2 linked regions of the Homo sapiens genome follow. The protein of the gene in region 2 interacts with the protein of the main gene of each other region in a pairwise test. Each region holds a gene or a part of one and is shown on either strand. Other genes may lie near its edges.

What was found. Proteins that work in one complex are often made in the same cells at the same time.
Region 1: the proteins of alpha-crystallin A2 chain (region 2) and ADD1 interact in binary tests that used the Homo sapiens proteins (3 or more experiments, as listed by UniProt).

What each region holds. Positions count from the first base shown.
Region 1 is NC_000004.12:2,846,844-2,850,343, forward strand, and holds part of ADD1 (alpha-adducin), read left to right. Parts: intron 1-3,500. UniProt on the Homo sapiens protein: Membrane-cytoskeleton-associated protein that promotes the assembly of the spectrin-actin network. Binds to calmodulin.
Region 2 is NC_000021.9:6,561,596-6,564,989, reverse strand, and holds the end of alpha-crystallin A2 chain, read right to left. Parts: intron 3,071-3,394; exon of another isoform or gene 2,975-3,070; coding exon of another isoform or gene 2,897-2,974; intron 2,790-2,896; coding exon 2,667-2,789; intron 1,236-2,666; coding exon 1,026-1,235; 3' UTR 501-1,025; downstream 1-500. UniProt on the Homo sapiens protein: Contributes to the transparency and refractive index of the lens. In its oxidized form (absence of intramolecular disulfide bond), acts as a chaperone, preventing aggregation of various proteins under a wide range of stress conditions.

The DNA.
Region 1 (3,500 bases), on a different chromosome or scaffold from region 2:
GTGGTGGCTCACACCTGTAATCCCAGCACTTTGGGAGGCCGAGGCGGGCGGATCATGAGGTCAGGAGATCGAGACCATCCTGGCTAACATGGTGAAATCCCGTCTCTACTAAAAACGCAAAAAATTAGCTGGGCGTGGTGGCGGATGCCTGTAGTCCCAGCTACTCGGGAGGCTGAGGCAGGAGAATGGCGTGAACCCGGGAGGCGGAGCTTGCAGTGAGTGGAGATCGCTCCGTTGCACTGTAGCCTGGGCGACACGGAGCGAGACTCCGTCTCAAAAAAACAAAAACAAAAACAAAAAACAAGCTAGGTGCGGTCGCTCACAATCCCGGCACTTTGGGAGGCTGAGGCAGGTGGATCGCCTGAGGTCAGGAGTTTGAGACCAGCCTGGACAACAGTGAAACCTCATCTCTACTAAAAATACAAAAATTAGCTGGGCATGGTGGTGCATGCCTGTAATCCCCACTACTAGGGAGGCTGAGGCAGGAGAATCGCTTGAACCCAGGAGGCGGAGGTCGCAGTGCCATTGCACTCCATTCTGGGCAACAAAAGCGAAACTCCGTCTCAAAAAAAAAAAGGAAGTAAGACTAGGATTCTACTCAACCTTCTCATTTTTATATACCTGTATCTACTTTTCTTCTAAGCCAAACATTTTGGTTCTACTTGCTCACTGTTTCAACCCACACCGTACACATTTCAGTCTCAGAACAAGATGAACACGTGAACCTCGAAAATTTGAGACAGGTCTCGGTTAACTTAGAAAGTTTATTTTGCTAGTGTTGAGAATGTGTGCCTGTGACACAGCCTCCAGAAGTCCTGATTGACATGTGCCCAAGGTGGTTGGGCACAGCTTGGTTTTATACATTTTAAGGAGACATGAGACATCAATCAATATATGCTAGAAGTACATTGGTTCAGTCCAGAACGGCGGGGACAGCTTGAAGCAGGGAGGGAGCTTCCAGGTCACAAGTAGGTGAGAGACAAATGGTTGCCTTCTTTTGAGTTTCTGATAAGCCTTTCCTAAGGAGGCAACCAGATATGCATCTATCTCAGTGAGCAAAGGGATGACTTTGAATAGAGTGGGAGGCAAGGCTGGGCATGGTGGCTCACGTCTGTAATCCCAGCACTTTGGGAGGCCGAGGCAGGTGGATCACCTGAGATCAGGAGTTCGAGGCCAGCCTGGCCAGCATGATGAAACCCTGTCTCTACTAAAAATACAAAAATTAGTCAGGCTTGGTGGTGGATGCCTGTAATCCCAGGTACTCAAGAGGCTGAGGCGGGAGAATCACTTGAACCCAGGAGGCGGAGGTTACAGTGAGTTGAGATCGTGCCATTGCATTCCAGCCTGGGACAGAGTGAGACTCCGTCTCAAAAAAAAAAAAAAATAGGAATCTTAACATAGCATAATATTAAACTTTAATAGAGTTGTTTAATTGTTAATGCTTATTCTGGCCTTTCTACATTGAGGAACCTTGAGTTTAAAGGAATGAGGGGAAGCACATTTAATACAGTTTGCCTTTTGAGCTTAATTTTTCTAGAAGTACCTTTTTAAACAGTTGTTATAACTAATGTGTAACACTGTTTTTGATAACTGTCAGCTTAAACATGTTGAGCATATATTTATTTAATTAATTTATTTTTTTTGAGACAGACTCTTGCTCTGTCACCTAGGCGGGAATATAGTGATGTGATCATAGTTTGCCGCAGCCTTGAACTCCTGGGCTTAAGCCATTCTCCCACCTCTGACTCTGAAGTAGCTAAGACTGCAGGTTCATGCCAACAGGCTTGGCTAATTTTTTTTTTTTTTTGAGATAAGGTTTCAAAAGCCTGAGCTGTGTTGCTCAGGCTGGTCTTGAATTCCTGGTCTCAAGTGATCCTCCTGTCTCAGCCTCTGAATATGCTAGGATAACAGGCATGAGTCACTGCACCTGACCTGTTTCCAGGTTTTTACTGTTATAAGCAGTGCTCCAATTAATATTACATCTCCATATTGGGCACTTATGAGGTACATCTATAAATACATTCTCAGAAATGAAATTGCTATGTCAAAGAATAATTGCACTTTTCATTTGCATAGACATTTCCAAATTACCCTCCTGGCCCCAATTAATATTCTTACATTTCCATCTTTGGGCACCTATGAAGTATATCTATAGATACATTCTCAGAAGTGAGATTGCCATGTCAAAGAGTAATTACACTTTTACTTTCCGTAGATGTTTCCAGATTATCCTCCTAAGAAGTTACGTTGGTTTATACTCCTACCAACTGTGTATTTTCTCCACATAATTAAGTATGGACACTAAAGTAACAATAGTCCCTATCTTACATGGTTATTGTGAGGATTAAATGAAGTAAATGCCAAAAGGTACCTACTAAGCTGTCAGCAAATGACTTATATTATTAATATAATTATTGTTTTTTTCTGAACTTTATTACCAGAAATATTATAAACCTAGACAGTGCTTCATGAGGTTGGGAAAGAGGGTTCATACAATTGATCTGAGCAATATATGCCTCCAAAATACTGTTATCTGTATTAGAACAGACGAGCTCTGCATCTAGGCCTTGGGCCCAGGGAGTCTGGCATCTGGGGCTGACGTTAGGGGACAGAGTCCACAGGTATATCTCAAATTTGCTGGAAAGGGCATGCCTCAGGAATGGGGCGCAGTAGATGTAACTACATGTGTGCCTCTGCAGCCTGGAATGGCAGCTGTGGCTGTTTGCATGGGGAGGAGAAAGTCATCATTTGGGAGGGACCTTTAGAATATCCCATCCCAAACACTTCTCTCCTTCTCTTACTCTGAAGGGCTTAATTTAAATTTGCTTTGTGGATTAACGTATTGAGAATGATTTAGGGAGTTCCTTACCTAAAAAATGTTTTCCCTCATCTGCACACTGTCGCTTGAAATTTATTTCACAGGAGAGGGAGCCGTAACCATAGGCAGTGTGGTATTATGAAAGGAGTACTGGCTCTTCACTATGGGTTTACTGTGGTTTGCTGAGGGTAGTTGAGTGGGTGAGAAAGTCACTTAGCTGCCCCAAGCCTCACTTTTCTCCATCGGAAAATTAAGTAGCCATGTAATACATGAAAGAGAGAATGTTGTGAAAACACTTTGAGAATGCAAAGGCCAAGTGAAAACATATGTCCGTACAAAAGCTTGTGTGTGAATGTTCAGAGCAGCATTATGTTTAACAGACAAAAAGTGAAACACCCCAGATGTCCATCAGCTAATGAGTGGATCAACAAAATGTGGTCTGTTCATACGATGGAATAGTAGTTGGCAATAGAAAGGATTGAAGCACTCATACCTGGTACAACATGGATGAACTCTGAAAACATGCTAAGTGGAAGAAGCCAGACACAAGAGACCATGTGCTTCATGATTTTACTTATGTGAAATGTCTTCAATAGGCAAATCTTTTTGTTTTTTGTTTTTTGTGAGACTGAATCTCACTCTCTTGCCCAGGCTGGAGTGCAGTGGTGCGATCTTGGCTCAC
Region 2 (3,394 bases):
CCTCCAGCTCGGGGCCATGATGGGTTGCCCAGGGGAAGCTGCCGAGTTCCAGCTCCTCAAAAGCACGAGTGCCCTTAAAGCCCAGCCCCGAAGGCAGCAGGACCCCCGAGAGAACAGGACGACCCAGCAGACCCCGAGAGAACCGGACGGCCCCGCAGAAGGAGGCCAGGGCTGGCGTCCCGCCCCGGTGCCGGCGCGGACAGAGAAAGGAGCCCGGCCTCCCTCCATTCCCTGCAGCCCCTTCCAGGTCCCTCCCCGCCCCCAGCTCTCGGAACCGCTCCCCAGTCCCTTTCCCATCAGAGGCTCTGCCCCCAAAACCTCTCCTTCCAGCCCAGTGTGGAGGGAGGCGCTTGAGCTCAGGAGAAGGAAGGGACGCAGGCGACCCCATCGTTCCGAGGCCACCGGGTCCAACGCGAGCAGGAGACCCCGCTGTCCTCCCTCCCGGCGCCGCCCTCCTGCCCCTCGCGCCCCTGATGGAGACAGCACCAGCAGACGGCGGGTTGCTTGTATCACCTGCTGTTTATTGATTGCCGCGGGCTGCGCTCTCATGGGCGACCCATGTCCCCAAGAGCGGCACTACATAGAGGGGTTGGAGGAAGACGGTCTGAGAGAAGAGGCCGCGAGAGCCCAGGTGCACAGAAGCCCCGGCCCCACGGGCCTCACGCGCCCCAGGAGGTGTGGGCAGGGCCCGCCGCGGAGGGAGGCTGCAGGTGTGTCAGGAGGCACCTGGCCGGAGGTCACCCCCTCCTTCTGGACCCTCAGCAGAGTTGAGGCGCCTGCACCCCAGGGGAGCCAGGCTGCTATCTAAAGGAGTGTGAGGTGCGGTCACTTCCGCCACTGGCCGGTGTCGGGGTCTGGGACACCCTGAGACCCTAAGCTCTCCTGGCTGCTCTCTCAAACCCTCATTCCATGTGAGAAGGTGGAAAGGAAAAAAGGGAAGCAAAGGAAGACAGACACCCCGCCCTCAGGGTGCTCCCCCCATGATGGGCCAGGGCTGCAGGGGAGCCAGCCGAGGCAATGCCTGCTTAGGACGAGGGAGCCGAGGTGGGCTTCTCCTCCCGCGACACGGGGATGGCTCGCTCGGCGTGGGTGGCATCCAGGCCAGTCTGGATCTTGGGGCCACAGAAGGTCAGCATGCCATCGGCAGACAGGGAGCAAGAGAGGGCCGACTGGTCCACGTTGGACGGCAGGCGGTAGCGGCGGTGGAACTCACGGGAAATGTAGCCGTGGTCGTCCTGGAGAGGGTGGGGGCGCACAGTCAGGGGGGCCACTGTGCAGGCGGCTGCCTCGCCCCATGCCAGAGAAGCTGCCCCAGCCCCACTGACTGCAGAAGGGGGCCAGCCTGCGGGGGCTCTCACAGGGGCCGGGTGCAGCCAGCACATCCCATGGCCAGGCCCCCTGGGATTTATGGATTCATGCCCCTGCTTCTCTGGACCTCAGCCTGGCCTCGTGGCCACTTGCCGGGCTATTCCCCGCGGGGGGTTGTCTCTTCCCGCTCCATGGCTTCACTCCAAAATCGCAGGATCATTCCAGACCAGGCCCCGCACCTCAGCCAGTCTTCCCCTTCCAGACCCCGCAGGACTGCTCTAGCCCAGGTCTCTGCAGCCCTACCTAATGTGGCCAGACGACCCACATGCTTCCACGTCCCCTGGACGCCCTAAACCGCAGACTCAGCTCCCTGGGCTGACCTCCTCCTCCACTGGGTGCAAAGACCAAGAGCTGGGAGCTCAGGAAGCATGTTCCAGGCTGGCTGGGGCTACGTGGGGGCTTTACCGGGCCCAGGCGAGGGAGGGGCAGCACATGAGGAGGTCAGCGTTCACCCCCCAGCACCACCTTCTCCAGCCATTGAAAGAGGACCCTGGCCAAAAGAAACCAAGACTTTGGCTAAGAGTTCCACCTTCCAGCCCCACTCTGCTCTCCAGCCCCCGCGGGGCACTGTCCATCTGTGACAGTCCATGAGCTCTTCCCGGCTCCGCCAGGAGATGCAGGTCACCAGGGCTCCAGTGCCCCGGCTCCCTCAACACCACGGAGATCCGAGGCCTCCAGCCGAGCAAGAGCGGGGCATCAGGGTGACTGTGGGGAGAAGCTCCCGTCCACCTGCCCGGTACTAGCTGTGGGACCCAGCAGGCTGAGGACCCCCTTGTTCCCCAGCCGTGCCCTGGAATAATGAGGACACTGGTTCCAAAGTGCTGCTGTGAGGCGAAGGTGTCAATGCCTGTAAAGCATTCCAAGCGGATGCAGCTATGCCGTCGGGGACTGGCTTCCTCAGGTAGGGTTCATGTGAAGATGTACACTGGCTAGGAGGCGGCCACCCGGGGCACTCCCACTTCCTGGGGTTCTTTCTAAGACCACCCTGGCATCCAGGTGACAGGGATGGAGCTGGCGACGGCTGGGTGCAGCCCGGGAAGGGACCCTAACCTGGATCCCTGAGCCACATTAGCTCGGGAATGGTGACCTCTGTCACCGGGAGGGGCTGGCTGTGCTCAGGTGGGCACGGCCCCTCCCTTGGGGAAAAGCCAGGCCTGATTCGGGGTCCCCTGGAGAGCGTCCCTCTCCCAGGGTTGAAGGCATGGTGCAGGTGTGCAGGCCCGGTCGTGCCCGCCGTGACCCCCTTGTCCTCGCGCCCAACTCGCCCCCCTCTCCCACCTCTCAGTGCCTGGGCTCACCTGGCGCTCGTTGTGCTTTCCGTGGATCTCCACAAAGTCGTCCTGCACCTTCACGGTGAGGTCCTCCGGGGAGAAGTGCTTCACATCGAGGAAGATGACGAACTTGTCCCGGTCGGATCGAACCTGAAATCCAAACGTGCCATGTGGAGCTGCCCAGAGGGTGCCGTCCCTGCTGGGGTTGGCAGAGACAGGGCGGGTCCCGGTTATCAGAACAGAGATGCTTCGGTCACCTGCCGGCCTCTTCTCCCACACACCAAGTGGGGCAGAGCTTTCGGGGGCCTGTGACTGTCTCCTGGACAGACAGGCATGACCCTCGACCTGTCTCCAAACCCTCAGGGCCAGCTGAGGGGCTGAATGCTACTGGTGGGCCGGCTGGTTGTTTGGCTATGGTCAGGTGGCTGGTTATAGATAAGTTGGCTGGTTATGGGCTGGCTGGCTACTGGTTATGGTAGGAGGGGTCGTTACGGGTTGGTTGGTCCGTTAGGGTCAATCGTCTGGCTGGTGATGCTTGGCTGGCTGGCTGGACTCAGCCTGTGGAATGAGGTCACTGCCCTTGGTGTCATGCTGTCTATAGAAGCGGCCGGAGCCTGCTGACAGCCTGCGCAGCTGCCTCTCCAAAACGCACTTCCACATGCTCCTTCTCACTCCCCTGGCTCAGCCTTGGCTCCCTGAGGCATTTTGCACCCTGGCATTGATGCCTACTGCAGCAGCCCTGGGGAGGACCCTGT